3 separate regions of the Homo sapiens genome follow, and all the other regions are linked to region 1. Evidence: fine-mapped expression QTL. A gene starts in region 1. Each other region holds a variant in brackets. All regions are shown on one strand. Distances are from middle to middle. Region 1 holds the start of NCEH1 (neutral cholesterol ester hydrolase 1). Region 2 overlaps NCEH1 (neutral cholesterol ester hydrolase 1). Region 3 overlaps NCEH1 (neutral cholesterol ester hydrolase 1).

Region 1 (10,856 bases):
ATTTCTTATGCCAGTTAATGACATTGCCCAAACCAGAAACTTTGAAGTCATTGCTGGCTCCATCCTCTCCCTCTCCCTTTCAAGAATCCAATTAGGAAATTCCACCAATTTAACTTCTCAATGATTTCCTTGCCTTTCAGTATTCACCACTATTCCGTGCCTCTAGTTCAGACAGACCCCTCTCTGACCACTTCCTCTTGGCCTCTTGTCAACTTCTCCTTCTTCTTCTCCTAAACAGTAAATGCCAACACCCTTTGGCCTGCTTTTCTTCTGCCCAACCCTAGACCCTTCCCCATCACGCGGGCGCGGACACACACACACACACACACACACACACACACAGCTTCTGTCTCATTCATTGTCATGGCTTCAGTTACAGGATGAAGATTCACATTTACATCTCCAGCTTGTGTCTGGGAGCCTACGTACTGTCTCTACTTAAATGTTTTATAGATACCTCAAACCTAACTCTTCCAAACTAAATTTATCATTTCCCCTTAAATCTTTTACCCTTTACCATTCTTTATCTCTGAAAAGGCAACACCATTCTCCCATCTGCTTCAGCGAGTGACCCGGAAATTCATCTTGACTCCTTTATTCTCCCTTTACAAGTCTTCTTGATTCTACCTCTCAGGTATCTTTTGACTCTTCATTCTCATTTTCATCACCTGATACAAGTTTATGCTAATACCATCTCTATCTTGCACACCTTAAAAGCAACATCCTTGACCAGGTGCAGTGGCTCATGCCTGTAATCCTAGCACTTTGGGAGGCTGAGGTGGTTGGATTGCCTGAGCTCAGGAGTTCAAGACCAGCCTGGGCAACACAGTAAAACCCCATCTCTACTAAAATACAGCAATGACAAAATTAGCCAGGCATGGCAGCGTGCACCTGTAGTCCTAGCTACTTGGGAGGCTGAGGCAGGAGAATTGCTTGAACCTGGGAGGCAGAGGTTGCAGTGAGCCGAGATCACGCCACTGCACTCCAATCTGGATGACAGAGTGAGACTCCATCTCCAAAAAAAACCAAAAAGCAAAACAAAAACAAACAAACAAAAAAACAACATCCTCCCAACTACTTCATCTGTTCTCTCCCCACACACATACCCTGTACATCGCTACCGGAGCGATCTCATGCAAACCCTTCAGTGTCTCTCCACTGCCTAAAGGATAATGTTCAAACTCTTCAGTGACATAACACACTCGTAGCAGGCCCTCATTGTGTGATCCCTAACTCTTCAGGTTATACTCTCATTACACTCCACCTCCCTGCATCTGATGCTCCAGAAATATTGAACTATGTGTAGTTCTCTGCTCCCATCACACTTCAGAACTCCCATATAATCTCTTCTTTCTGCTTGGGATGGTCTCACTTATTGTCTGCCTGTACACACACTCCTTTTCAGCCTGCAGAACTTGCTCAGTCATCGCCATTTTTGAGTATTTCTTATTCCTCATTTTTCTGGAACAGAATTTTGACTTCTTCTGTGTTACATTTCTGAGCTGTGTACATATTTGAAACTATCTACTTATCTGACTTTCTCTCTAACTAGAACACTTTTTCACAAGGAAAGGAACTATATTTTCATCACGACAGCATCTACCACAGTGCCTTACAGATAGCAAAACTCAATAAATGTTGAACTAAAGTTCTGCTTGTCGTGGATGAAGAAAACCACTTCACATGGTGTAATAGATGGAATTTTGGGAAAATTATTTCAAGTGATAAAAATAAAGATTTTGTTAAGCAATGATATTGCTATGTCATATATTTAGATGTTAATAAAAATTAATCTAAGACAATTCCATAAAAACGGAAAAGTCAATTTCTGCACTCAAACTACACCTTATTGCCTTAGAAACAGAGTATTTTGACTCTTGTTATCATCGTTCATAATTTATGAGTATGTCTTATCTCCCCTATCTCTAAAATATACCCAAAATCTGTCCCCTTGATTCCATTGCTAAACTAAACTGCAGCTCCGGGCCACCATCATATCTCATCTGGACTACTGCAAAAGCCACCTGACAGGTCTTCTCCACATGGCAGCTGTAGTGCTCCTTTTTAAATATATGAATAGATCAGATCATGTCACTTTCCTGTTACAAAACCTCCAATTGCTTCCCATTGTACCAGAATATTCAAACTCCTTAACATGGCCTACATGGTCCTAAATGATCTGCTCTTCTGCACCCACACTACCTCTGTGGCTGAGCCTGTTCCACCACCTTTCCCACAGTACTTCTGCCTCACTAGCTGTTAGTGTTCATTGACCGGGTTAGCATCTTAGAGCCTCTGCACCTGTTCCCTCCACCTCCACAACCCTGCATGGCAGTCTTCTCCTGTCATGCAGATGTCAGCTCAAATGGCATCTCCTTAAAGAGGTCCCCTTTCCCACCCAATTTAAAGCAGCTCCCAGACACCCTGTTCTGTTTTCTCTCTCTCTCTTTTTTTTTTTCTGAGACGGAGTTTTACTCTTGTTGCCCAGGCTAGAGTGCAATGGTGGAATCTCGGCTCACTGCAACCTCCACCTCCCGGGTTCAAGCAATTCTCCTGCCTCAGCCTCCCGAGTAGCTGGGATTACAGGCACGTGCCACCACACCCAGCTAATTTTTGTATTTTTCATAGAGACGGGGTTTCCCCATGTTGGCCAGGCTGGTCTCCAACTCCCAACCTCAGGTGATCCACCCACCTTGGCCTCCCAAAGTGCTGGGATTACAGGCGTGAGCCACCACGCCCGGCCATTTTCATTTTTAACCACTTAGCAGTAGAGCTGAGTGGTAAAGCACATGAGCACTAGGCTCAGACTCTGGGCTCACATACCAGCTGGATGGCTTGGGCAAAGCACTTCATCTTTCAGTGCCTGTTTTTAGAGTAACAATGGTACCTATTTCGTAGAATCGTTATGAAGCTAAATTAGTTAATATATTCAAAGTGCTTACCACAGAATTACCTCATAGCAAGGCAAATTAATGCATGTTGCTTATTAATTTTTGTTTGTTTATTGTTTGGCTCTTCCTTCTGTATCATGCTTACATCCTCCCCTGAACCCCTCCCCACCACCCTCCAAGCATATAAAATCAAAGAGTCGAAACCTTACAGCCTGCCTGCCACAACTTCTTTATTTCCCAGTGTAGGCCAGGTATGTTTGTTGAATGAATGAAGTATTGAAAACAAGTGATGAAGGTGTTTATACTTATCTCAAATTAGTCTCATTTTAAAAAACTCTCAGATCTACAGAGGCTCTCAGATTTCTGATCTGAGAATTACTACAGTTTCTTTGTTCTTTCTTAGTTTCTATCTCTTAGTGTACTGCTTAAGGGAAGCCACACTTCACTGAGAGGCAGAAATAAATATTGCTACTATCACTTACAAACTAGAGGAATATGAGTAAGCCATTTGGCTGCGCTAATCCTCAAGAGGCTCATCTATAACACCGAGTGTGTTAACTGCTGGTGGAAGAGGGAAGGCTGAGTTAGGTGTGGGGATTTTTGGATTTGTTTGCTTGTTTGTTTTTGGTTCGGTTTGGTTTTGTCATTAGCTCTAAGATCTATGTTTTTATGAACATATAGTCAAAATCTAAGAGAAAAGTATTGTCGACAAGGTAAAACTTGGATTTATTTTGCAGATTTCCTGAAAGCAAGTAATGTAACTAAATCCAGTAGTCAGCTTGGTTTATATCTCCAGGATTATTCCTAATCACCCATAAAGATTAGCTTCTGGCTGGGCGTGGTAGTTCACACCTGTAATCCCAGCACTTTTGGAGGCTGAGGCAGGTGGATCACCTGAAGTCAGGAGTTCAAGACCAGCCTGGCCAACACGGTGAAACCCTGTCTCTACTAAAAATACAAAATTAGCTGGGCTTAGTGGCAGGCATCTGAAATCCCAGCTACTCGGGAGGCTGAGGCAGAATGGCTTGAACCCGGGAGGCAGAGGTTGCAGTGAGCCAAGATTGCACCATTGCACTCCAGCCTGGGTGACAAGAGCGATGCTCTATCTCAAAAAAAAAAAGAATAGCTTCTAATTTTCTACACATATACTCACACACAAACATAAACATAAACATTCCTATCTGTTTAGAGTTATGAGTTTAACCAGTAACTTAAAAGACAGAGAGAGAGAGAGAGAGAGAGAGAGAGAGAGAGAGAGAGAGAGAGAGAGGCCAGGTGCCGTGGATCATGCCTGTAATCCCAGCACTTTGGGAGACTGAGGTGGGCAGATCACAAGGTCAGGAGTTTGAGACCAGCCTGGCCAGCATGGTGAAACCCCATCTCTACTAAAAATACAAAAATCAGCCAGGTGTGGTGGTGGGCACCTGTAATCCCACCTACTGAGGAGGCTGAGGCAAGAGAATTGCTTGAACCCAGGAGGTGGAGGTTGCAGTGAGCTGAGATCGTGCCATTGCACTCTAGCCTGGGCGAAAAGAGCAAGACTCCGTCTCAAAAAAAACAAAAAACAAACACCAAAAACAAACAAAACAAAAAAAAAAGAGAGAGAGAACTTGCTTGAAATACCATGAAAGTGTGCCCTTCTTATCAGTTTTCCTTCAATGTTGAAGAAGAAGCCAACTGTTTCCTAAAAATCTCATTATCAGAACCAAATTTATGGTTATTTCACTTCTATTAATTTGATTAAATTAAAATTACCATCTTAAGATGCATAATTATATATACTAGGTGTTTTAAGACCTTCATCAATAAGTTTGGAGTTGTCATCCTACCACTTTCTTGAAACAGGTCTTCTAACTGTTTTCCTTCTGGATTTCTGGTTGAAATTTTGCTAGTGAAGTTTTCTCTCTCCCATTCAGTACTCACCCACCCCTCCTCACCCCCAATCATTAACAAGAAATCTGGGTTTAAGTGTATTTCTGCTACCATTGACTCACTGAAAGAATTTTTCAGGTGATATCCACACGTTTCTCCAATAAAAAGTTATTATTTTTTCCCTTTGTAGTAATTTGTGGAGAGATCTTCTGATGAAGGACCAAAATTCTGTGTCAAATTTTTACCCTCTAGTTTTAGCATTCATTTATGATTTTCTATGGATACTAGCTGGCATTCTATTTTAAGAAAAGCCTTTCTTCTTTCCTCATTTATTTATATTAATATAGATTGTTGAGTTTTATTTTAATCAATGGGTTATCCATTATGATGATTTATATTGATGGTAAAATTATCCCAGCTTCAGCCACTGGGAGACCCTTCAAGCTGGCAGCTGTGGACCTTTGACCAGTTCCTATCATTTTTTGAGCACTTCCGCATCTCTGGCACAACAGGTTCATCTTGTACTTTACAGCCCCAGCCCTGGTATCAGCCTTTTCTCCAGAGGTTGTGTCAAAAAGCCGTGGTTCCTCTTATTGGAGCATAGGATTTAGAAACCAAGACTTGGGTGCTAGATGTACTACTGGCCTTTCATTGCTTGAGCCAGAAGAATTTAATATCTTCTTTTGCCATATATCAGCTAGAACTTACAAACCACTCCAAGTCTGGCTCCAGAAAACAGAATTTTTATATCCTTTCTCAGTACTCTGAGTCAGAATGACCCACTTGCTTTGTCCAGAGACTCGTCACACTGAAACTATTTTCCGTTTGAGACCTTCCAGGAGGAAAGCCATCCTCACACGCATGCAGTACAAACCAGTGTCCTCCAGAGTCCGCTGTGCCTACGGCCAGAGCAGCGACAGAGCCTTCCTCAAACCTGTAGTGACTGCCACACTTTGCAAGGACACCGTAGAGGGGGCATGTCCGCGCTCCAACTTCCTCCCGACGCAGCCTCTGATTGGCTCCTGGGCTTATAAGAAACGCGTGAATGAGCAGCTGCCGCGGGCAGAAAGTTGCCGGAGGTCTCCGGGTGGTATCGCCCTTTCCTCTTTGCCAGCCCGCTGGCGAGCCGAGCCAGGGCAAGATGAGGTCGTCCTGTGTCCTGCTCACCGCCCTGGTGGCGCTGGCCGCCTATTACGTCTACATCCCGCTGCCTGGCTCCGTGTCCGACCCCTGGAAGCTGATGCTGCTGGACGCCACTTTCCGGGGTGCACAGCAAGTGGTGAGGTGCAGCCCAGCGCTGCTTCTCTCTTCCTCCTCTTACGCAATATTTGAAGGGGATACAAAATTCCTCCGCCGGGTTCCACGAAAACGCAGGTTTTTCCTAATGCATTGAGGCTGTCGCTTTTTGAGGTGGTCCAGTCGGGAATTTTCAGGGTATCGCATTCGCCTCCTTGCTAGCAGCGGGCTAGATCTGCATTTCCCCGTCTGCGTTTGTGACGGGGAAGAAGTGCTTGAATAGAATTTGACAACTGTTTAAACCTTCGTCTGTCCTAAATATCTTCCTCTTCCTTGGTTTGCAACGTCAAAAGGCAAATCCTTAAGCAGTTTATAAACCACCCTTCTTCACACTGTCGTTCTCCCATAGGGACCGGCAGAGGATAAATATTTTTAGGAGAGCTCGGGAAAAGCAGGCTCTGGTTCCTGGGAATGCAGCCACCTTAGAAGCAGAAGCAGGCAAGGGCAGTCTCGCAATGTCCCCAGGCTGTGGAGCGCTCCGTTCCCGGAGACAGCAGGCAGGGCTCTCCATCCAAGCACTTGAGGAACCATAGGGATCTCTCGTTTCACCCGAGGCAGATCTCAGCTCAGCCCAAGAAAGAGGACTGGGAGGCTGGGCTGGCTGAAAGGAGGTGAGGAGGCGGCAGCCCTGGTTTGCATGATGCATGTTTTCTGCTTGCCCTGCAGCATTTATTTTATGTCCTTGGCTGTCAGATAACCTTTTCCTGAGCGAGGTTACCTGCCTTAACCTGGGAGGGTAACATTTCTCTCCACTGTATCATGGGCGTGTGTTCATTCCTTCCATACACAGGAAAATATAACTGTCTCTGGTTTATTCCATGGTAAGAGGCATTATTTTTAGTGTCAGAGAATCTAAAATCTAAACTACAGTCTGCAGCCAAGGCTGAGCCCTCTGATTGGACAGTATTTCTGAGCAGCCTGCTCTATCTAAACTCTAACCTTCTCCAAAACCAAGCCTCCTCCCTCCCCACAACCTTGGGCTTTAATCTCAGAATATTTTTATAAACTCTTTCTTTCAGAAATGACAACTAGAGAAAGAGAAAAAAAATCATTTCAACCTGAGAAAGCTGATTTTAAAAAAGTCATGATTTTCCCAGAGGGTTTATGTTCCTGTTCCCTGTCCACTCATTATGTGTAGGATTACATAATCTGTGGGGCTTTATCCTATGAAAAGTCCCCTTACTAGGATATTGCAGCACATTCCTAGCGTGGATTTGCTTTTCCTGAATTCAGCCACATTCTCACCTCCAAAGCCCCTTTTGTCTCTTAGGAAAGGTCTATGAAGCTATAGACCCCTGCCCCCCTTCTTTTCCTCTTGCTTCCTATAATGTTGACATGGTGAAAATGATCATCCCCTTCTTTAGCACTGGTGTCAAGAAAGTCAGTCTTGTTGTAGGAAGCCTTGCATTCCCTCTCCTCCCCCATGAAATTATGTAATTTGAAAGTAATACCCTTCAAAGATTGAGGAACAGTGATGTTTACCTGGGTGGGTTAATGGTCTACTACAATAACTTAAACAGAGGAAAACAGGAAAAAGATCAAACTGCTGTGTTGGCTGCAGAGATTATTCTTAGTTTTCAGGTCACCAAAGAAGTCTTCTCCATCATAAGTTAATCTCGGACAAGCTAGGTTTGGAGAAAAGCTTTTCTTTCCCAGCTAGGCTTGCCAGCCCATTAAGGACAAGGCTGTGTAAGGTCCTCCACAGAGTATACCCTCAGGTGGTGCTTGGGAATGATAGTGGGTGTAACCTGAAGTCAGCAATAGATGAGGTAACCAGTGTTCTCACCTGACACTGTGGCTCAGGAGTGGATTTGCAGAAAAATGGCTCTTATCACTTCTCCTCTAAATTGTGAAATATCAGAAAGATCATTATGATCAGATGGAAACATATTCTACCCAATAAAGCAATTTTCCAGTGTCACCTCAAATCTTCCTGAGTTTTCCCTGTAAAATAGGGCAAAAAACTACCTTGTAGGTTTGCTATAAGGTTTAGTAATGTATTTAAGTGCCTGGTACTTGTAGTGAGTCTTCTAGTTGTCCCCAAGGGTCCATTGTGGATTGTGGGAACATCTATAAGAATGCTTACCTTTTTTGAAGCAATAAAATAAATGTAAACTGGAAGTAATTTATGTGATTGAAACCTGGAGTGCTACTACTAAATTACCTGGTGTCATGGCCTGGGGCGGTGGCTCACGCTGTAATCCCAGCACTTTGGGAGGCCGAGGCGGGTGGATCACGAGGTCAGGAGTTCGAGACCAGCAGCCTGGCCAACATAGTGAAACCTCTTTCTACTAAAAATACAAAAAATTAGCCAGGGCTGGTGGCAGGTGCCTGTAGTCCCAGCTACTTGGGAGGCTGAGGCAGGAGAATCGCTTGAACCTGGGAGGCGGAGGTTGCGTTGAGTCGAGATTGTGCCACTGCACTCCAGCCTGGGCAACAAGAGTGAAACTCTGTCTCAAAAAAATATATAAATAAATAAATTGCATGGTGTCAACCTCGTTACTCAGATAATTTTAGTTTGAGTTGATTGGCTCAACTACAAAAGCAATTTAAGCTGTTTGAGAGATTAAGCTCAGCCTATTTCCTAAGACAGCATCAGCTGCCTACCATTAAGAAATGTGAATGTTAGTTTATTCTGTTGTCATTGGCAAATACTTTATGCTTTAGCATTTTTTATGTCCTTTATCTTGTGCAGTGAGTCAGACTATTGAGATTATGTTCATTGTGCTTTTTTTCCTTGGGGTTCCCCATATTCCTTAAGAAGCAGCTACTTAGGATCTCTCTGACTCCTCTCAAACACAGATGCTATGTCAGAATCACCTAAGAACTGTTTAAAACAAACCAAACCAAAACAAAACACTTGATGCCCAGGTTACACCACATACCAAACTTACTTAGAATCTCTGGGAGATGAACGTTCTTAGCAGTGTTTAAGAAAAGTTCCAGCCGGGCGCGGTGGCTCACGCCTGTAATCCCAGCACTTTGGGAGGCCGAGGCGGGCGGATCACGAGGTCAGGAGATCAAGACCATCCTGGCTAATACGGTGAAACCTCGTCTCTACTAAAAATACAAAAAAATTAGCTGGGCGTGGTGGCAGGCTCCTGTAGTCCCGGCTACTCGGGAGGCTGAGGCAGGAGAATGGCGTGAACCCGGGAGGTGGAGCTTGCAGTGGGCCGAGATCAGGCCACTGCACTCCAGCCTGGGCAACAGTGTGAGACTCCGTCTCAAAAAAATAATAATAATAAAAATAAAAAACGAAAAGTTCCCCAGATGATCTTCATTGCAGCAAAACTTGAGAACCACTGCTCTATAAGATAAAAGGCATTGCTGTTGTAGACAATATATTTTCCTTAAACTGCGTGTTATATTGCATACGTGTTGCTGGAAATGAGCCCTTTTACATTAGCATGGATTAGTTTATCAGATTAGTTGACACTTTGGCCCTAAGGGGATAAAATACTAGCTAGGCAAATTTCTGTGTTATAGCAAAGCCACCATAAGACTTGAGCAGTGGAAAAGCACAAACAAAAGTAGGTCTGAGAAGGGCAGAGGTGTAATTTAGATGATCAGGCAGCAGGAGACTAGAGGAACAAAAGAAGAGAGTTTGGGGAAGTCCTGAAGGCTGATTTCCAAATGCTATGCAGACAAAGATTTTTTTTTTTAAATGGTAATCTCAGTGCAGGTTAAAATACTAAGTGTACACTGCTGGAGAAAATGTATGTTAGAACCACGTTTTTGGAGAACAGTTTGGCAATATCCATCAAAGCCTTATAAGTGTGTTTATTTTTTGACCCCGTAATCCCTCTAGATGGAATTTATGGTAAGTAATGATGGATATAGGCAAACCTCTAGCTATAAAGATGGAAACATTTTACAGGATTAAAAAACTTGTTCATCAGCACCGTAAGACAAAGAAAAAAAACAAAAACTTGTTGAACTTGTCTAAAAGCACTGCCACTTATAATAAACGTGAAGTAAAATCGAGCAATCTTTTTTTCTTTTATTTGCAGCACCATTTAAACGAATGAAGGTCGGGTGTGGTGGCTCATGCCTGTAATCCTAGCACTGTGGGAGGTCGAGGCGGGCGGGTTACCTGAGGTCAGGAGTTCAAGACCAGCCTGGCCAACATGGTGAAACCCCGTCTCTACTAAAAAATACAAAAAATTAGCCGGGTGCAGTGGTGCGCGCCTGTAATTCCAGCTACTTGGGAGGCTGAGGCAGAAGAATCGCTTGAACCAGGGAGGTGGAGGTTTCAGTGAGCCGAGATGGTGCCACTGCACTCTAGCCTGGGCTACAGTGAGACTTCGTCTCAAAAAAAAAAAAAAAAAAAGAAAAATGTAAGAACAGTAAAAGATTAAATAATGGTAAATTCATATTTGGGAATACTAGGCAGTTAAAAAAATTTAGGTTGTAAAATGTTTAATGACTTGCAAAAGATTTGTACCATGTGTTAAGCAGGAAAAGGCTACAAAATAGATCATACACTATTTATATATCAAAACATGTATCTATGTTTGTATAGAAAAAGCAGAAAGATATAATTTAAAACATGATTTTTTTCTTCTGGGCCATAAAGTTGTATCTTCAGTTTTCGTATTGGTGTATTCTAGATTTTCTACAATGAACATGTAGTAATAAATTATTTTAAAGCTTTTTTTAATCCAGGCATGGTAGCTCATGCCTGTAACCCCAGCACTTTGGGAGACTGTTGTGCCAAACCCCCATTAACCTCAGTAGTGAAGGCACCAGGTTGAAGAGGCTGAAGAAGATTCCCAGAGCCTGCAAACAAGACATGGG
Region 2 (10,856 bases), 69 kb after region 1:
TTAGTGGGAAAGAAGGGGACCATTTATCTAGGTTCCCCTGGATGGTCCCAGTTACCCCTGTTGTCCCAGCAAAATTATGACTAGTGCCCCCTTTTCACTCTCAAAAGGGTCCTGGTTTGGGTGATAAATTAAATGGTTATCCTTTGTAAAGGTTTTTTGCTTGTTAGTTTGTTTGTCAATTCAGGTAGACTGTTGTAAAAATATTTCCTATGATCTAAATCACAGACTAACTTATTGTGCAGTGCTGATACAGCTTTCTGCACCAAAACAAGGTGAAGTTTCACCAGGCACGCATATGGGGAATTATCTGTGCTTCTTTTGCCAACTTGTGTTTTGAAGATATATTTCTATGAAATAGACCAGGTATTCCTTAATACACATGTTAACATTTTATCTGCTTATGAAAGCAAAGGTAAAAATATATGCAACCATTCAAAGGAAACAATCTTGCAAAGTTCAAGAATATTTTCTTTAGATTTGGATGATTTTTATGAGTAGAACACATTCAAAATGGCAGGCAGCCAAACAGAGCCGCCCAGAAGAGAACCTCCCAAGGCGGAATTCGGGGTCTTGTCTCTGCTAATAAATGATCATGGAGCTACTTCCTCATCTTCAGTCCAGAGCTTTTGGCATCCCCTTAGTTTAAAAGCAATGGCAACTTGTTTTTTTTATTTTATCATTATGTGATTTTTTTTTAAAAGCAACAAAGGTCAAAAGGTTTGACTTTTTCTAGTAATCTTATTTAATTCCATATCCGTTGTTTATTCTTTTATTCAGTGATTTTTTTTCACATTTTCAATAGCTGTTCATGAGTATGTAGGTTTGCCCGAGACCAAGGGGTTTGCTGGGCTGCAGGTCTTTCAGTGCAAAAGCTCAAACAGTTGTGGGCAAGTCTGGACCATTGGTCAGTCTAAGGTGTGCTCGGGTGTAGGGATACAAAAATGAATAAGAAGGAGTTTCTGCCTTAAAAGAGATTGAATCTGTAGCATTGGACGCTTGCCAGGAAAAACATTGTACTGGAGGACAGCAAGTATGGGTGCCAGGAATGGGATGGATTACAAGAGTCAGCCTGGCCTTTTCTGCATAATTTTGACTGATCACTTCTGCCTGAGGAAGAACTTGAGCAGGTGGAGGTAACAGGTGTCTATGTAATTCTTAAGCTTCCGATTCTAAGACTGCCTTGGAAACCCTATAAATAAGGAAATGTTTGGCTCTCAGTTGGCACAATATAGATCTTAATTTACTGAGAGTAACTAAGAATTAAATTCTTACATATTAAATTGGTTCTGTTACTGCAGACCTTTGGAATCCTCTAAGAAATGCTAAGACTTCCTAAAATTCTAGTTTTTTACGTGTTCATTTAAAGAAAATACCATATTCTTCAAATTGATCACTTTACTGAACTGCAGCAAATGAAGTGTTAAAAGAGCAAAATTGTTAAAATTATTATTTTTAGACATAAGATCTCACTCTGTCACCCAGGCCAGAGTACAGTGGCTCTATCACAGCTCATTGTAACCTCAAACTCTTGGGCTCAAGTAATCCCCCTTCCTCAGCCTCCCAAGCAACTGGGACTGCAGGCGTGCACCACTATGCCTGGCTAATTAAAAAAAATTTTTTTATAGAGGCAGCATCTGGCTATGTTGCTCAGGCTGGTCTCAAACTTCTGACCTCAAATGATCTCCTTCCTTAGCCTCCTGAAGTGCTGAGATTACAGGCATGAGCCACCACTCCCAGCCTAAAATTGCATGATTCTAAGGAAGAGACTGCTTATTTGCTGTGATTTTTTTTCCAGAAAGATGTATACATTTGAAGAGCTATAAAATCAGGATTAATTTGGTGCATTTCATATAGTCCGTTATGAAATAAATATTTAGATAGTAATATATTCAAAACTAAACTATGCATTTCCTGTTATATAGTAGTTGCATGTTATTAGAAATCAGATTTAATTTTTCATGTGTACATGTAACTCTATTATTTGTTCACATTTGCTTTTTATTATTTGTTTTTAGTATTAGCTCCAAGCCTAAAAACAATTCACACTTAGCAGAATTTATGAGTGGACAGTATTAAATGACCTGTTTTGTAATGATTGTTCCCTTTGTGTCTTTTAGAAATCAGGTATTATGATGAGCTGTGTACAGCAATGGCTGAGGAATTGAATGCTGTCATTGTTTCCATTGAGTAAGTAATTAATGCTAGTCATAGAAAATTTTTCTTATAAAGGAATTCTAGATAACAGTCTGGTTACTTTGTTTTACAAGTGATAAAGTAAAAAATAAAGGTCTCAAGTTGGCAAAGAGATATGCCCAAAGTCACACTCAGCATAATCAGAAAAATGATTTCTGATGTAACAAAATTTATTGAACTAGCTTTATAACACTTCAAATTACCTTTTCACCGTTAGTTTTGAAAACTGAAAAAAGGATTAACTAAAAACCTAGAGAAGTATGCAATCAGTTACCTGCAACATATAACTTTTTAAATCTAAAAAGTAGTAAGGATTTTAAGAGAATCTCTTCTACAGCTGAGAGTTGAAAAAGTTGCTCTCTTAGAGTCAGGTTCTATGACTTGTGCCTTGGGAACAGAAATACGTGTTCAACAAATTTTAATGGTGTGGTTAGTAGTAATAGTAGTAATATTAATATTTTGGGTTGTCTCTGTCAGTTCTGTATAAGCCACTTTTCTGGGCAACTAAGAAGAATGTGAATAATAATTATAATAATTTTGATGATAATAATAATACAACACAAAAATCACGCCATCTTTTTTGTACCAGGCATTGTGCGAATGCTTTTGCACACGTGTCTCTTCTTCTTTAGGTCTTTTTTAGATACCATCCTCTCAGCCAAGCCTTTTTTTGACAAGCCTTTGTGAAATTGCAACCCACGTTCCTCTGTTTCATTTCTCTCCAAAGCTATCATCAATATCTGACAAACCACATATTTGACTTATTATGTTTATTGTAATAAGTGGAAATAGACAATATGAATTTTATAAAGGCAAACATTTCAGGATTGTTGTTTGTTTTGTTTATTGCTGAATCATTAGTGCCTGGAAACATCCCTGGCATATGGTGAGCATTCAGTAAATATTTATGGAATGAATGAATGAAGCACCTTAATTCTCATATAAAACATCCAAGATATTTTGATATCTTTTTCATAAGTGAGGAAATTGAGACCCAAGAAGCTAAGTGATGTGCATAAGGCCAGATAGCTAGCTCATCGCATAGATGGGGTAGGGGAATAAGTCAGATAGTTCCTGAGGTCTCTGGACCTTTTTGATCCAGTTTCAAGCCACTATTGAAGGGAGCTTATAATGCTGAGTGGCAGGGCCATGACGCCAACCACTTTTTCTTGCCCCAGGCTCATTCAGTTCTCTTCTTCCCTCTGCCTCTCTGTCAGCTATCCTCCTGTTCATGGTGCGCCACCTCCTTGCTCCTACTCCAGATTTGAGTGGATCTTTTCTTCTGCAGTCTCTTGAAAGGGGCTGCTCAGAGTCACTGAGGCAGTTCTGACCCTGTTGACAGAAGCCCTAGAGTCACCCAAAAGCCCTAGAGTCACCCCAAAGCCCTAGAGTCACTCAAAAGCCCTAGAGTCACTCAAAAGCCCTAGAGTCACCCCAAAGCCCTAGAGTCACCCCAAAGCCCTAGAGTCACTCAAAAGCCCTAGAGTCACCCAAAAGCCCTGCAGTCACCCAAAAGCCCTGCAGTCACCCAAAAGCCCTAGAGTCCAGACAGCTGGAGCCAAATCTGCTGAGGAAGCAGCCACCGCACCTGGACCTTTCTGGACTCTCAGCAAGGCCTCCCAGATTACTCAAGGGTTGTCAGTGCAGTTTGGTAATACAGGAACCTTCAAGGAAATGATTTGGGCAGTTGGCCTGAGCAGCTGGCCAGAGGAAAGCACAGGGGATGTTTAAGGAGACAAGGCCCTACAGCTCGGTGTTGAGGAACAAGCTTCAGGGGCCATTCAGTTGGTTTCTTGTGTAGCCCCAGCTCCTTGCAGGCCTGAGAAAAGGAGGGAAGCTGGGCTTGCTTCAGTTGGCACCGTGCAGATTTTCCATTTACCACAGGGCCTACCCTCCGGGCTTCAATATCACTATTTGGCCACATGCCCTAAACCGTTCCTCCATTCCCTTCTCCCCTTATCAGCATCTGTCTCAAGTAAAATGGGTATTGCAAGGCTTATCATAAGACACAGAAGAATAAGATATATTTAAGAGGATTTTTTTGAAAAGGGCTAAAATTTAGAAGGGACTGCTTTGATTTAAACTTTGCATTGTTCCTAATCTATACAACATGGTGTCCAGATGGGAGGCATGAGCATATGGCAGTCAAGTTCCATCACTCATGACTGTGTGACCTCAAGCAGGTCATTTAAACTCATGTGCAAAATGGGGTTGAGAACCCTTCCTGTATGTTTAGAATGTGAGCTACTGGGAAAACAGTGAGGTATGGTGGTGTGCCTTACTTGAGAGGCTGAGGTACAAGGATTACTTGAGCCCAGGAGTTCGAGTCCAGCCTAGGCAACACAGGGAGACCCTATTTTTTAAAAAACAAAGCAAAGGCCAGGCGCGGTGGCTCATGACTGTATCCCAGCACTTTGGGAGGCTGAGGCAGGTGGATCACCTGAGGTCGGGAGTTCGAGACCAGCCTGATCAACAACATGGAGAAACCCCATCTCTACTAAAAATACAAAATTAGCCTGGCATGGTGGTGCATGCCTGTAATCCCAGCTACTGGGGAGGCTGAGGTAGGAGAATCACTTGAACCCGGGAGGCGGAGGTTGCAGTGAGCCGAGATTGAGCCATTGCACTCCAGCCTGGGCAACAAAAGCGAAACTCTGTCTCAAAAAACAAACAAACAAACAAACAAAGCAAAAACAAAAGAATGTGAACTCCTGGAAACAGAAATCACGTCTTCCTTCCTTTGCATCTCCAGAACCCAGTACAAGGCTTGGAGTGTGCATGCTAGGTAAATGCATGCTGAGTTGGGATAATGACTGCAGAGAATTGTCATGAGAATCATTTTAGACAATTGATATAAGAGGAGTTCAGATATTCAAAAGCACTAGCTGAGTCTGGAGGATTATTGCTCTATCTAGCCTATAGAATGAAAAGGACAACTTACACGTTTATTTATCAGCATGTTTGGAACTCACAGTACTTTTTTTTCTTTTTCTTTTTTTTTTTTTTTTTTTTTGTAGAAATAGCAAGATAGTAATCCTTGTTAAGATTCAGGCTAACCCAAGAGCACTTTATAACCTATGCTGTAGTTGAGGTACAGCCAACATTATATGATCATGATGTTTCTCTTGGAAACGATGTTCAGGCCTGGTGTAGTGGCTCACACCTGTAATCCCAACACGTTGGGAGGCTGAGGCAGGTGGATCACTTGAGTCCAGGAGTTCAAAACCAGCCTGGACAATATGGCAAAACCCTGTCTTACAAAAAGTTAAAAAACAATTAGCCAGGCATGGTGGTGCATGCCTGTAGTTCCAGCTACTCAAGAGGCTGGGTTGGAAAGACTGCTTGAGCATAGGAGATCAAGGCTGCAGTGAGCTGAGATTGCGCCACTGCACTCCAGCCTGGGTGACAGAGAGAGACCCTATCTCAAAACAAAACAAAACAAAAAAATAGAAAAAAAAAGCAGTTCAGAGCGGGATCTCAGTGGCTCGCTTCTTTCTTCTTTCTTTTATTCCATAAATATTTACTGGATTCCTGTTTTGTGCTAGTTACCGTGTTAAATGCTGGTGACAT[A/C]ACAATGTAAGAATGACTTAATTCCTGCCCTCATAGAGTTTATGATCTAGAAGAGAAAGACCTTGAATAAGTAATGTTAAAAGTGTGATAAGTGATGGGAAGTAGAAGGGCAAGTAGTAACAGAGACATCTAACAGGCAAGATCTTACCTCGTTTAAAGGATCAGAAAAGGTGTCTTAAAGAAAGTGATGTTTGGATGAAACCCCTAAGAATGAGCAGAACCTCATTAGAAAAAGTGGATTTGTCATGGAAGACCAAAGTGGTGTAGTAAGAGGGCTTGGGAGGGGAGGGACGAGGCAGAGAGCAGTGAGGGAATGAAATGTGAGAGAAGACAGACGGAGGGACGACTGAGGAAAACAGAAGTAAGTGTGGATGATTCCAAGAGTCTTTAGGAGGATGGTGGACGCTTGGTTCTTCTGGAGCTCCGCCTTCTAGAAGACAGGCTGTCTGGAGCCAGCAGCTCCTTGCCTTGAGGCCCTCTAGAGTGGGTAGTGGCGTCATGGCTTTGCTATTCTTTCATGTGGATTATGGCACTGGGGAAGGTTTTTATCTGAGGAAGCTGGTGGGCAGGGGTTCCAGCAGCCTTGGTAATGGAATCACCTCTTATGAGCACCAGGAGTTGGGACTCCATGATTCATGTCACTCATGCTGGCTCAAGGGTCTGGGGACAGACCAAATGACTGATAGGTGAAGTCCTTGAGTACAAAACCTACGTAAAAGCTATGTCTCCTACTCAGTAGCTTCTACAACGCTATACTATTTTTACATATTAATTGCACAATAAGTATTTGTTAAATACATTACAGTGTTTATCTAAGATTTGCAGATGTATCCTCATTTATACAATCTAGAATATAAAAGGCCTTATATTTATAAATTTCAGTGCAGTTTAACTATAATAGAGTATTTTTTTACCTCTAGTTTATGTATTTTTTATTTATTTATTTTTGAGACAGAGTCTCACTCTGTTGCCTAGGGTGGAGTGCAATGGTGCAGTTTTGGAGAAACAGTCATCCATCCACATTCCTTCCCCTCGAGCACAGTTTTATTATATGTTCTTTTAATGAAAAGGAAGCTTCTGGGTGGGATGCAGTGGCTCACACCCGTAATTCCAGCACTTAGGGAGGCAGAGGTGAGAGGATTGCTTGTGGCCAGGAATTTGAGGCTGCAGTGAGTTATGATGGTGTCACTGCACTCAAGCCTGGGTGACAGAGCAAGACTGTCTCTTAAAGGGGACAGGGGGCCGGGCGCAGTGGCTCATGCCTATAATCCCAGCACTTTGGGAGGCTGAGGCGAGCGGATCACGAGGTCAGGAGATCGAGACCATCCTGGCTAACACGGTGAAACCCCATCTCTACTAAAAATACAAAAAATTAGCCAGGTGCGGTGGCGGGCGCCTGTAGTTCCAGCTACTCTGGAGGCTGAGGCAGGAGAATGGCGTGAACCTGGGAGGCAGAGCTTGCAGTGAGCCGAGATTGTGCCACTGCACTCCAGCCTGGGCGACAGAGCGAGACTCCGTCTCAAAATAAATAAATAAATAAAATAAATAAATAAAGGGGGCAGGGAAGAAAGGAAGCTTTGCTTTTTTTTTGACCTTGTGATGCAACAGTAGAAAGGAAACTTCTGTTAGTGGAATAAATAGATTCTCCCTCTGGAGTTGTCTCACTCAGAGAGCACAATCTGGATTTAATTATTGATTTGTTTTGGATATCCCCTACTAAAAATACCCCTAAGACAGTGGGGAATATTAACTCTTTTATGTTCCCAAAATGAATCTATTGAGATTTTCTTGGGTGATGGTGAAAAGTAAAAAAGCTGGAAAAGGAGTGAGGCTTATCCTCTCTCCTGCTGAATCTGATAGGAGTATAATTTTATTCCAGAATGCCGCATGTATCTTTCACCTAAGTAGTACTATATGAAGAGAACTTGGCGTCCCTTCCACAGCAGAAGGTTGTGCATATGGCTTCCAGGTTAGGTTATTTTGAGGAAGAATTGCGCATTTCAACCCTCTTAGCACATTGGTGTCATTCGGGGCTTGGGGGCATAGGTTTGAAGTCAGTTGTGAGTTCAGATCCCAGTTCTGCCACTTCTAGCTGTTACAGACAAGTTACACATTTTCCTTCAACCTCACATTCTCATCCTTAAACCCAGAAGTTTGCTTGAGATTTGAGTGACATACGTCTGTAGAACATTTGGCAAGGTACCTCACCCAGCAGGAATATGGTCATTTTGATAGACTGTACACATTAATTTGATTAAACCTCATGCCTGAATTTACACCAAATTTTGTTCTTCTGATGGGAGTTACATGCAGTGATAAAGCTAGGTAATCCACTTGTCATTGCAGAGTCATCCTCTCCCTGAAGTGAGTTGGGCAAATTGAGGAATATATATGCATCCATAATATTAATATGATATAACATCTTTGATATTTACGTATCAGGTGCTTTAAGATCTGCAGTTTTTAAATATTGAATGTCAGAACCCTCTTTCACTACTTTGCAGGGACATAGCTTTGAGCACCAGCAGCAGAGAGCAGATATATTTATGTATGCTTTATTTGGCTGTACCACCCATGAATTTCCTCCTGATTCTTGGCTTTCTGTGTCTAGATATTACAAAATTTTGATATACTTCTTAGGTGAATTTCAAGCTACTTTGAAAGTTCATCTTATGCCAGGTAACCTAATAAATATCTACTTTCAGGATATTCTTCAGTCTACAAAGTCTCCATTTTTTTTTTTTTTTTTTGAGACGGAGCCTCACTCTGTCACCAGTCTGGAGTGCAGTGGCGTGATCTCGGCTCACTGCAACCTCCAACTCCCTGGTTCAAGCGATTCTCCTGCCTCAGCCTCCCGAGTAGCTGGGATTACAAGCACATGCCACCACACCCAGCAATTTTTGTATTTTTAGGAGAGATGGGGTTTCACCATGTTGGCCAGGATGGTCTCGATCTCCTGACCTCGTGATCCGCGCACCTTGGCCTCCCCAGGTGCTGGAATTACACCATGCCTGGTGCTGGTGAGCCACCGTGCCTGGCCAAAAGTGTCCATTTTTATTGAGTAAAACTGAAGAATGTTTCCAGCATGAAAACAGATGAGGGGAGGGGTTAGGCCATGGATCTTTATGGCACCAGGAACACTCTTGCATCATAACCTGTTTGTTTTTAAGCATGTTTATCCTATTATATAAGCCAATTATTAATTGAGAAGATTGAGCAGTAGCATGTTTTTTTTAGGTTACCAATTGCCTTTGATCAAAGTCTCTCAGACCTTTTCTGAAATAACATCTAAAAACTCAACTTATTTGACATATGGATGCTAGTGGATATGTTCTGACCATCTGGGCAACCAGGAAAACAGTTTATTGTGATATGTGGGATATTGCTGAAATGAAATAACCTTTGTTTTCACAACTTGAGTCATGAAGTACATTTGTTTTTATTAAAATTAAAAGTTCAGCTTGGTAATACTGAAGATTAAAAATTGAGACCCACCCCCCACCCCAAGAACTAGGGGTAAATAGACTCATATGAAATGATGTCATCTAGTGGACAAAACTGCGTAATTCTACTTTTTTGCTCAAATGGAATTATATAGATTATATAGCAGCAGCTTTCATACATAGTGAAAAATCAACTGGAAAAAAAAAGCATTTTGCATGATTAATTGACCACCCCAGATGGAAAAATAAGAAATTAGAAAATTTATTTTATCTGCTATATGGCAAACGCTAAGGGATTTTTTTTTTTTTTTTTTTTTTTTTTTTTTTGGACAGAGTCTCGTTCTGTCGCCCAGGCTGGAGTGCAGTGGCGCGATCTCAGCTCACTGCAAGCTCCGCCTCCACTAAGGGAGTTTTTTTATTGCATTTAGTTTCAAAATGTGGTAATTCCGGAATGACCAGATCCACATTCACTACTTGTCAACGTATTTCACAAACATTTGTCCATTTGATTTTATCTACAATGAATGTCAAGATGTTTAATTACCTAGCAGGATTTTATTTTGAGACAGGGTCTTGCTCTTTCGCCCAGGTCTTGTTCTTTCGATCTCAGCTCACTGCAACTTCCACTTCCTGGGTTCAAGTGATTCTCAGGCCTCAGCCTCCCAACTAGCTGGGATTACAGGTGCATACCACCATGCCCGGCTATTTTTTTTTTGAGATGGAGTCTTGCTCTGTCACCCAGGCTGGAGTGCAGTGGCACCATCTCGGCTCACTGCAACCTCCGCCTCCTGGGTTCAAGTGATTTTCCTGCCTCAGCCTCCTGAGTAGTTGGGATTACAGGCGCCCACGACCGTGCCTGGCTAATTTTTGTATTTTTAGTAGAAACGGGTTTTCACCATGTTGGTCAGGCTGGTCTCGAACTCCTGACCTCAGGTGATCTGACTGCCTCTGCCTCCCAAAGTGCTGGGATTACAGACCTAAGCCACCGCACCTGGCCCTTTTTTTGTATTTTTAGTAGAGATGGGGTTTCACCATGTTGGCCAGGCTGGTCTTGAATTCCTGATCTCAAGTGATCCACCTGCCTCAGCCTCCCAAAGTGCTGGGATTACAGGTGTGAGCCACCGCTCTCAGCCCAACTAGCTGGATTTTAGACTGTGGAAAATAAATGTCTTTATTTAGAGTAGCTTAGAAAAAATTAGTTTGTGAAAATAAGTATGCTAATTATAAGATGGAAATCAAAAGTCTTGAGTCTTCATTGGCTGTTATTAATTTTTAATTAGGTAATTAGTTTTTATCCTACCTAATTTTGGTCTGTTTTTGAGTTTTTGCAAATCAAGTAACTTTTGTATGCCTTAGTTTCTTCGTTTGCAAAATGAAGGTATGTTAATACTCAAAAAAGATTTATTGGATGGATGATTATGTGCCCCTCACATTGGCAGATACTGGAAGCACAGTTATGAATAAAACACAGTTCCTGATATCAGAGAACACAATCTTTAGGAAAAACATATGATAATTTTCATATGAGCCAATAAGAACAGTGAGTGACGTACCCTGGCACATAGAAATATCAAGGAATGGTAGCCAGTTCAAGCCCAAAAGCAAGTGGAGATATGACCAAGGAAGGCTGCCCAGAGGAGGCCAAACCCT
Region 3 (10,856 bases), 37 kb after region 1:
TTCTAATGGCTGGCATTTGCATATCAAAGCTTGCTGGCCTGGCCCTTTAAGCCACCTTTTCTGTTATAAAAGAGATGATTCAGGGGTTGTTTCTTATTATAGGAAAATTTCCACCGAGAACCTTTACCCTTACTATCTGGCTAAAATAATGTGTTAATAACCCCTGTATTATCTGTACGTGTTTAGGTGTCTGGTGGGCAACACTCAAATGTTTGCTGAATGAATTAGTGGGAGCTAAACGATGGGTGTGCGGTACATACAGAATGGAATATTATAGACATTGGAGACTATAAAAGGTCGGGGGTGGGGGGTGTAAAAAGTAAAGTAGAGGTTCCTCTTCAAAGACTTTCCTCCCCGTCTAATTAGGAATAAATAGTAACTTCTCTTAAAAGCAAAATTTATTCAAAGACCTGTGCTAACATTCTTAAATATCTGCTAGCTGTAATAAAGAAATCAATACACTTCATGTTCTTAGAGCCGACAATTTAGCCTGAATATTTTCCCTGGCATGCTTATAGTGGTCCAAGCAAGCATTAGGTCATAGCTGTCCCTCTTCCTTATTTAAAGGTGTTTTTACCTTTCTCAGCATTCCACAAGTTACTTCCTCCTTCCTTCCTCCTTCCTTTGTTCTCCTGTACCTGTGCCTCTTTTTAAAAGTTCTAAGTTGCTAGCCAGTCGGGACAAATACAGAATGTGAGGTCCCATTCCAGCCAATGGAAAGCGGACACAGCAGTAGGGTGGATGCGTCAGGTTATAAATGACCCTGCCTCCTTTGTTCGGTGTACTCTTGTGGCAAAACTTCTGGCAAGTGTACCCTTTCTGCAGGAAGTAAAAATGGCCTTGCTGAGTAAATTAAATTTATGTTCAAGTGCTATTTCTTTATGGCACCAGGGAACAAGCATTTCAAACGGGGGTGAGGGTTGAAAAATGACCTGTTTGGTACAGTGTTCACTATGTGGATGATGGGTGCACAGACTTCACCACTACACAATATATGCATGTAGGAAGCCTGCAGTTGTGCCCCTTTAAGGTATATTTAATACATATAGTTTAAAAAATTTTTTAAATGTTTGAATGAGTAGGTAAAAAATAAATATGGACCCTTTTCCTTGTGGTGGAGTATTTTATCTGTAAATTCTCCTCAGGAAGATCATTATATGGAAGATCTCAATTGTTGTATAGATATTTTGATTGAGACTTTGTTAGACATTAAACAAGTTTGTTGTAATTGTGGATCTTTCAATAGACTAAACGTTTGGAAGGAGTGACTTGTTCCAACGTCTTGGATCCGTTAAAACAAGAAGCTGCTCCTGGTGTAGATTTAAACACTCCATTGTGTGTTTTCCCAGATTCTGTCCCAACAGCCAGTGACTTCCTTCTTGCCTCTGGAACTGGCAGGCCATCCTGTCTTGTAATGCCTCAGGCCAAGGAGGGACTGAGCTGCATTAACTTGAAACTACTGGCTGTAGAAATTGTCCTTATTGTAAAGGCTTGGGCTTTTGTACTGATGCTAATTTTCTCAGACACTGTTTATGTAGGCAAAACTCCTGCTAACCAGCCCAGCAGATCAGCTGGCAGAGAGAATGTGCTGCCAGTGGGGTAGAGTTTGGGATACATTTCATGACCTACTTCCCCTCCCTACCCTGATTTTTAAACCTTTTCATCTTAAGTGCAGCAAAACCTGTGTAATAGGAGAGGTTTCCGTTTAAAATAATGACAGTGTTTAAAATAATCACAGCTCTGATTGATAATATTCAGAGCAGTGGGTCAGGATCAGTCGAACTTTTGAGAGTTCTGGTGCTTGCTTTTTATTTTTATTTTTTGAGATGGAGTCTCGCTCTGTCGCCCAGGCTGGAGTGCAGTGGCACGATCTCAGCTCACTGCAGGCTCCGCCTCCCGGGTTCACGCCATTCTCCTGCCTCAGCCTCTCAAGTAGCTGGGACTACAGGTGCCCACCACCACGCCTGGCTAATTTTTTGTATTTTTAGTAGAGACGGGGTTTCGCTGTGTTAGCCAGGATGGTCTCAATCTCCTGACCTCGTGATCCGCCCGCCTCGGCCTCCCAAAGTGCCGGGATTACAGGCGTGAGCCGCCCCCCCGCCCCTCCCCCACCAACAGCTTGCTTTGTCACTTAGGGCTTTATGATCCTGAGCAAAGCATTTAACTTCTCTAAGCCCCAAATGAGCATACGAGTGTAATACCTGCTGTTCCTATCACAAGTCCTTGTGACATTCAGATGAGTGAAAGTTCAAAAGGTCATAAACTGTAAAGGTCCATTTGAAAGAGTACATGGTTTATTATTATGTATTTTAAATAGTAGGCAATAACTTGTCATGATCACCATGTGAATGTGTACAAAAGGGTACTTAATTTATTATCATCTGAATCTGGCTCTTCAGATATCAGTAGATGTCTATAAACATCATTCCCCTTGTATCTTTTGTGTTTATGTGCCATTTAAGACACAGTTTTTTCAAAGATGATGTCTAATTTGCCACTTCCTGCACTTTGTAAAAAGCAGAAGATTAACCCAACTTCTGGAGTGTCCTGTGTAACACATTTGTGAAGTCACAGGGCATGAGTGGACAAGCTCTGAACTGTCATATCAAAGAAGGGAATATGGGAGGTTTTGTTTGGAAGTTTAATTCTTCTGTGCTGCTTTTAGTCAGCTGCTACTTGGAACACTCAAATGAAAACAAATGCTGCTGTCCTGGCAATCAAGGGAGGCTTTTAGCAGCTTGGGTAGCCTCAGGAAGGGCATTTGTTTATGACCTCGTGTACATGAGGCACTGGAAAAAAATTTGGCCCCCGAGACCCAGACTTTTTCCCAAGGAGCTCACGATCTAGTTATTGTTGTGGGAGGTAACAGAGATGTGAGTATAAACTTAATTTTTTAAAAGTCTCATTTTTATGTGCCTGTGTGTATGGAAGGCAAAGGAGAGTGAGACAAGAATAGGACCAAGAGAGGTGTAAATGACATGGCTCCGATGACTGAAGGAACACCAGGGTCCTTGGTCTCGCGCCAGTTTAGATAAAATGACACAGACACGTGTGGAGTAGTTTTAAGGAGCGGAGAGTTTATTAGGCAAGAGAGAAGCAAGGAAGAAAACAGCTCCCCGGTACAGAGACAAAGGGAGGGGGGATTCGAACGACGAGAAACCCCGTGTGTGGCAGGAAAAGTGGTTGCTTATATTGGGATGCTGGAGGAGGTGGTGTCTGGTTTGCATAGGGCCCAGGGGATTGGTTTGACCAGGTATGTTATTTACATTGCCTGTGAAAAACCTGGCGAAATTTCCCACCTTAGCTCTTTAATATGCAAATACGGATCGCCATGATGTTCTGAACACATGGTATTATCTGGAGGTAGCCATGACACTTGGCACACATGGTGACAAGAAGAAGGCAGGAGTCGCCATATTGGGTGGACCATTTCTAACGGGCGGCATTTGCGTATCAAAGCTTCCTGGCCCGGCCCTTCAAGCGGTTTTTCTGTTAGAAAAGAAATGGTTCGGGGTTTGCTTTTATTAACAGAAAAAGCCTTACCAAGAACTCCTTTTAGCCTCTCTCTCTGCCTAAAAAAACTTTTTTAAGTAACACCTGTATTATTTCCCCCCTCAAGAGAAGCAAACCTAACTGCTGTTAGGGGGTGTTGGACGATGATTCTTTGTGGCCACTTCCTGCTGAAAAGGAGCATGCAGGGGAGCAGCAGTTGGGCCTTCTCCTGAGGTTGATTTAAGGATTCTTGGAAGAATGGCGTGTCCATGTGTGGTTCTGCTTGCAGTACCATTTGGAGTTTAATTGCTTCTAGGCGAAAAGAGATACGTTTTACAAGAAGGTTTAAAATATAGTGTTAGAATAAGAGCATTAAGATTACCACCATCAGTGGGGGTCCTGTAGACCATAACTGACTTAGAGTTTGGTACCTATTAGTTACACCAATGGATTGCAATACTGGATTGTCTACACTAGATGTCGCTGTACATTACCAGAAACGTTAACATAAAAGTAACATTTTCCTTGAGAACAGCATGCATTTCTCCCTTGACTTGCCATTAGAGAATAACTTTAGGCTTAGGCCATTTTTATAACTTGCAGTATGATTGAGAGAAATACGTTATTGGATGTCTAAAGTAACTTTAGCATTAATTTTGACAATTCCTTTCCTTTAATGATTAAATTTTTTCATGATTTTCACAGACTCTCTTACAACATACATTTTTCTGACTCATTCTAAACATCCTTCCTTTAAAAAACCAGTCATTTCCTTTTATGACAAGTATTTACCATACAAAATCCTTTTTTTTTTTGTAAAATTTTTTAAAAATTATACTTGTGCACAATGTGCAGGTTTGTTACATAGGTATACATGAGCCATGTTGGTTTGCTGCACCCATCAACTCACAAAATCATTTATTTATTTATTTATTTATTTATTTATTTATTTATTTGAGACAGGATCTTGCTCTGTCACCCAGGCTGGAGTGCAGTGGTGTGATCTCAGTTCACTGCAGCCTCCACCTCCCACGTTCAAGCAATTCTTCTGTCTCAGCCTCCCCTGAGTAGCTGGGATTACAGGCACCACACAGCTAGCTTTTATATTTTTGGTAGAGCTGGGGTTTCACCATGTTGGCCAGGCTGGTCTCGAACTCCTGATCTCAAGTGATCCGCCCGCCTCGGCCTCCCAAGGTGCCGGGATTATAGGCATGAGCCATCGCACCTGGCCACAAAATCCTTTCTTATATAAAATGTATTTCTTTATAACCTTTTTTTCATAGCTTAGAGTGCATTATATTACCAACCTTTAGTAAAAAGTCCTATTAAACGTAATGATAGTAAAACTTCTATGTTTGCTTTTTATCCGTAACTATTACTCCTGCTATAAGTAAAACAACTTTGACTAAATTTTTCCTGCAATTAATCCTGTTATAAGGATGATAATCAGGCAAAATATTATGGCAATTAGAATTTTACAACCAGAATTCCACATTGTGGGTGCCACAGTGTATAGTTCTATTGCGAATAGTAGCGTAACTGTAACAATTTCCACAAGAGTGGCATAGTAAATAATTTTCATTGAAAATTTTACTTGCCAAGATATAACATTTCCCTCTGGGGATTTACAAAGTTACAAATGCAATCCCATGTATAATTAAAATTTCCCTGTAAATA[AT/T]GCGTTAAAAAGAAGTTCTACTATTTGGTAGCAAATTTTGACAGGAAAGGATAGAAATGAAAAAAAGTATCTGTTGGGGTAAAGGTGGGACTGAGTAAGATGAGTAGCCCTCACTTTTTTTTTTTTTTTTTTTTTTTGGAGACAGAGTCTCTCCCAGTCGCCGAGGCTGGAGTGCAGTGGCGCGATCTCCACTCACTGCAACCTCCGCCTCCCGGGTTCAAGCGATTCTTCTGCCTCAGCCTCCTGAGTAGCTGGGATTACGGCACGTGCCACCACACCCGGCTAATTTTCTTTGGTATCTTTAGTAGAGACAGGGTTTCACCATGTTGGCCAGGCTGGTCTTGAACTCCTGACCTCGTGATCTGCCTGCCTCGTCCTCCCAAAGTGCTGGGATTACAGGCGTGAGCCAATGTGCTCAGCCTACTCACTTATCTTTTATAATTTTCAACTTAAGATGTTCTATTAATACCACATTTCTTGGGTTAAATAAAGGTTTTATTTCCTGGGGTTGGGCTTCTGCTGGTTGTGTTAATTCTTGTGGGAAGTGAGCTTAGAGAGGTTACATGCTTAACCAATTTAGAGCTTTTCTGCCTGAAAAGAAATCTCTGAACACATTGGTAAGTTTTATCCATTCCCAAGTAAAAAGCTCGGTGAAGGATTTTAAGGACTTTCATCGGCTGCAGGCTGGCAAATAGAGTTTGCCATCCTGACTGTCGCCGTCCTGAGGGCTGAAAAGTATGCGGCTGAGAAGTGGCCTATTCTGTTTCTGCAGAGGAATACTGAGGTTTAATTTCTTTTAAAATGGAGCCCTCCTAGATTAGAAGGGCTCAAAGTGTGTTAGTGCCTTGAGGCTTCCTTGCCTTTGACTTGGCTGCCTGATCAGCTAATCTGTTTCCTTCTGCTACCTTATCTGTTCCCTTTCAGTGTTCCCTACAATACATCCCTGCTGTCTCTCATGAAAGAAAAACTGAGGATAACCTGCTAATTTCCTGGTAATATTTTATAGGAGATATATTAGTGTTAAGAAAATGCCTTTCCTTTCAAATGGCAGCATGAGCATGGAAAATCAGGAAAGCATACTTGGAGTCAGTATAAATGTTAGCCACCTTTCCCTTGCTTAATTTAGGTGCTCTTGTAAGAGCTCTTAGCTCAGCCAATTGAGCGCTTGTGTTTGGGGAGAGTGACTACTGCCTCTCCTGCTTTATGTACCTCTTGCTTCACTGGCTGTTTGCCGGCTAAGAGCTCCCCCTAGAGGACAGTGATCCTGCCACATTATGTGGGGTGTAAACAGTTAAATTATTTCCTAGGGTTAACTAGGAGGCTTTTCTGACTAGTAGAGCTACTATGACAATGGCTTGGAAGCATTTGTAAATAGGTCCTCCTAACCACAACTAAGGTTGAGAAAAATATTGGATTAGAGTTTTTCTTGAAATGCCCCTTATAGTTGCGCTATAGGAAGAGAGGAGGCCTGGCTTAGAGAGGAGAAAAGAGAGAGACTGGGTCTAGTGTTTAGAAGGAGGTCTGCTTCCTTTTCTTCAATGTCCAGTATCACCTGGGGCTCCTATGCTATGATGGCAGTTTGAGCTGCTGGAGCTGAGGTTTGGGCCCCAGGACCCATCAGTCCTGTGGGACCATCTGTGAGACTGGCTCTGAACCCAGTGACCTCCATATCTGGGGACAGTTCTGTCTCCACTGGTTTTTGCCACTGGATGGACAGGGTTGAGGTGGCTTCGTCTTGCTGCCTGGGCATTCCTCTTTAAAATACCCTGGCCTGCCACACTGATAGCAACTAATGGATGCATCTTGGGGCTCCTGGACTTTGCCAGCCTGCAAAGCTGCTGCTAGAGCCTTTGTCCTTCCCCTGAGCTTTCTCTCTTTCTTTTGGGCCTCCTCCTGGTCCCTATTATAAAAGACCGAAGTGGCCCCCTTCAGGAGGTTCTCTAAGGTGCTATTTGGTCCCATAGCTTGCTTCTGTAGTTTTCTTCTAATATTGGGAGCTGCCTGTGTAATAAAACTGTCCTTCAGGATGAGCTGTCTCTCCACTGAATCAGGGGATAAAAGGAAGAGTGTTCTATTAGTGCCTCTATCAGCCTTTCTATAAAGGCCACAGGATTCTCATCTGGCTTTTGGTCTATTATAGACAGTTTAGAGTAATTGAGAGGTTTGGCCCTGGTTTTCCATAGGCCTTCTAAAACGCGTATTAAAAAGGGCTTCCTGGCCAGGTGCGGTGGCTCTCACTGTAATTCCAGCACTTTGGGAGGCTAAGGCAGGCAGATCACCTGAGGTCGGGCGTTTGAAACTAGCCTGTCCAACTTGGTGAAACGGTACTCAACATGTAGGCAATTATAATGCAGTGGTAAGTATTTGTAGATCTAATACTTGGTGAAACTTGGTACTCAGCACTGTAGGCAATTACAATGTAATGGTAAGTATTTGTATATCTAAACATAGAAAAGGTACAGCAAAATATGATACAAAAGATTAAAAAATGCTACCCCTGTGTAAGGCACTTACCGTGGAGCTTGCAGGAGTAGAATTTGCTCTGGGTGAATCAGTGAATGAGTAGTAAGCAAATGTGAAGGCCTAGGACATTACTATGCATTACTGTAGGCCTTATAAATACTGTACACTTAGGTTACACTAAATTTGTTTTAAAAATTAAGTAATTGCACTACAATGTCACAATGACAACAATGCCACTAGGTTATAAGAGTTTTCCAGCTCCATCATAATCTATGGAACCACCCTCATATATGTGATCTGTTCTTGAGCAAAATGTCATCATGCAGCACCTGACTATATGTAACAAGTATGTGTGTGCCTGTGTGCATGTGTGTATGTATATATACATGCTACATTTATATACACCTGATATGTGCATGTGTAATTATATATGTAACAAGTATGTGTGTGCCTGTGTGCATGTGTGTATGTATATATACATGCTACATTTATACACACCTGATATGTGCATGTGTAAATATATATACACACATGTAGCAGGTGTATATATAGGTAGCATATATATATATTTGTATATATATCTATATATGTGTGTGTGTGTGTGTGTGTGTATGTGTATGTGTGTGTAGCAGCGGTTTTGTGCTAGAACCAAGAGCCTGGAACTGGTACAATGAAAATATTTTACCCGAAAGGTATGCTAAGTAAAAGTCCCAAGTTTCACACATTTTTGAGGATCAAAGTGAAGAACTCAAAGTGAATTATTAGGTAATCATATCTACTTCTTCCTAAACCCTCCATCTGATTCTGTGCTAAAATTTAATAAATACCAACTGATCTTTCCATCTCCATAAAATTCTTTGAGTTAACGAAATCCTACTTTCTGGTTTCTGAAGGATGGTATTCTGCAAATGTAAAAGTTTCCCTTAACCTCCAAAAAATAATTGGGTTAATCCAGCTACCACAAGTGTGAAATTGAGAAGCTGCTTGCTAAGATTGAATTTAATATTGTCACATGTCATCTGAGAGCTGCTTGTCTGATCATGTTGCCACTGGACAAAGTAAGCCTTACTACAAAGGATAAAAGAATGATTATTTCAATATCCAGTCATAGTTCATCATCAAACTCTGAGTAAAATGGAGAGAAAAAGACGTTTTATCTTATATGACTATGCATTTCTCTGGGAAGTCATTTATCTGGTTACTATCTAGGAGAGCAAAGATAATGGGAAAAATCTTCCATTATTCTCAACTATAATTTTAAATATGAAATTTTCATAAAATAGGTTTTTGGTTCTTTTAAAAGCCCTCAATATAAGAAAATGAAATATTAGAAACTTATTTTATAAAATATATTTGTGAACCATAAAACCCCATATAAAACGGAAATTATTATTACCATTAACTACTGATGCTTCTAATGTTATTCTCTAATGGTTAAAAAATGACTAGAATTTAGAGTTACTGCCAATATATGGGGAGGATTTTATAAAAATAGCTTTATTCATTTGCATGTTAAGCAAGAGTGTGATTACTGATGGCCGTAAGAGTCCCTTGCTGCTTTAAGCTCTGCTCTGCTGCTGACTCTACATGTGTAGCTTTGAGAGGTCCTTTAGCCCCTCCAGCTTTCCTCATAGTCAGGATGTGGCTATTGTACTTGATGATATCCCAAACATGCTTCTGATTCCAACATTCAATGGTTCTGTGATATTTCTACCTTATTAGAAAAGACATTCACTTTAAAAGTATAAACGCTGTAGTAACTTTTTTCTTTCATTGTTTTCAATAAAAGTGTAATGGAAGTAAACTGACAAGTTTAGGAGGCTTTCAGAACATAAAGGAGAAAGGCTGACAGCTCTTGAGAACCTCTTTGCTTTCAGCTGAGAGCAAGTAGAGAATGCTTGCTCTCTGGCCCTGAATGTCATAATATTATGTTCAGAATCATTGAAATGTCTGACAACACTGTTGATTAAAAATGAGAATCATTAGGTCATGTCTGCCGTTATAGGATGAAGGGTAGTTTGAACAGTGTGAAAAAAACTATCCCAAAAGGATGATTTGTCTTAGACAATATTAACAAAATTTCAAATTATAATATGAATAGTAATTTATAGTAATTCACTTTTCTTATTTTTCTATATTTAGCTTTATCTTAAAAGTTCCTGTTCATTGGTAATGCTTTGAAAAATGCTGGATTTAGAATTATGGACTATCAACTAATATTATGGATGATATTATTTAGAAACCATTCTGTATGCTACACAAGTCCTTTGAAAATGATATGAGCTGGACACAGTGGCTCACACCTGTAATCCCAGCCCTTTGGGAGGCCAAGGCAGGTGGATCACGTGAGGTCAGGAGATCAAGACTAGCCTGGCCAAGATGGCGAAACCCCATCTCTACTAAAAATACAAAAATTAGTTGGGTGTGGTGGCAGGTGCCTGTAATCCCAGCTACTCAGGAGGCTGAAGCAGGAGAATCACTTGAACCCAGGAGGCGGAGGTTGCAGTGAGCCGAGATTGTGCCACTGCCCTCCAGCCTGGGTGACTCCATGTCAAAAAAATAAATAACCACTAAAATGGCTATTATTCATCTTTCAAAATCTGTTAATACCTGGAAGTTCTGCATGACCTTTAGGAAAACTACATCCACAAAACATTCCTTCTAGTTTCCTAATAAGTTTTAGAAGAAATATTACCATTCTGAGCTAAAATAGTTCTACTTCCTTAGGGCAAATTCCTCTCATAACATGAAATAGGCAAATACAATTACTCTAAAAAAAGTTCAGCCATAGCATCTTAGAGTTTAAAGGAATAACCCTTAGGAGTTCACATAATTTTTTTCCACTGCTTCCTAGGCAGATCTCATTTAGTGTAGCTGGCGTGTTGCCCTGCCCACACGAACAGTGGACTTCTCCAAACATTTCTTTAAATATTTTTCTCACAAAATGAGAAGTTGAATCAAAACGTTGGTGTTAATTCAGTGTCTCAAAGACATTAGACCCAAGGCCTCTGTCTTTTCCTCATGGTTGCTGATGAAGGCCGAAGCTATAGCCATAATGGTAATATTCCAGTTGGAGAGAGAAGAAACTACTCTTTTGTATACTAAAAATACAAAAATTAGCTGGGTGTGGTGGCATGCGCCTGTAGTCCCAGCTACTTGAGAGGCTAGTACAGGAGTCGCTATGTTTTTAGCCAGCCCATTCAGTTTTTGTAAAGCTCCATCA

Evidence for each region.
Region 2: its variant is fine-mapped to the expression of NCEH1 in testis (GTEx, PIP 0.93).
Region 3: its variant is fine-mapped to the expression of NCEH1 in whole blood (TOPMed, PIP 0.91).

The regions. Positions count from the first base shown.
Region 1 is chr3:172,706,033-172,716,888 of GRCh38, reverse strand. NCEH1 (neutral cholesterol ester hydrolase 1) reads left to right here and starts at 5,822. Exons shown (of 5, transcript NM_020792.6): 1 at 5,822-6,042. The coding sequence starts at 5,905. RefSeq lists enhancers at 5,372-5,511, 5,556-5,850, 5,772-6,041, 5,171-6,370.
Region 2 is chr3:172,636,954-172,647,809 of GRCh38, reverse strand. NCEH1 (neutral cholesterol ester hydrolase 1) reads left to right here. Exons shown (of 5, transcript NM_020792.6): 3 at 2,118-2,187. Among named protein-coding and RNA genes, the nearest start is that of LINC02068, 47 kb to the right of the region's middle. The variant A/C (reference allele first, on the strand shown) is at 5,764.
Region 3 is chr3:172,668,895-172,679,750 of GRCh38, reverse strand. The region is part of intron 1 of NCEH1 (neutral cholesterol ester hydrolase 1); the gene reads left to right. LOC124909457 (a long non-coding RNA gene) reads right to left here. Exons shown (of 2, transcript XR_007096170.1): 2 at 3,058-3,804. Among named protein-coding and RNA genes, the nearest start is that of NCEH1, 37 kb to the left of the region's middle. RefSeq lists enhancers at 1,687-2,322, 2,323-2,958. The variant AT/T (reference allele first, on the strand shown) is at 5,170.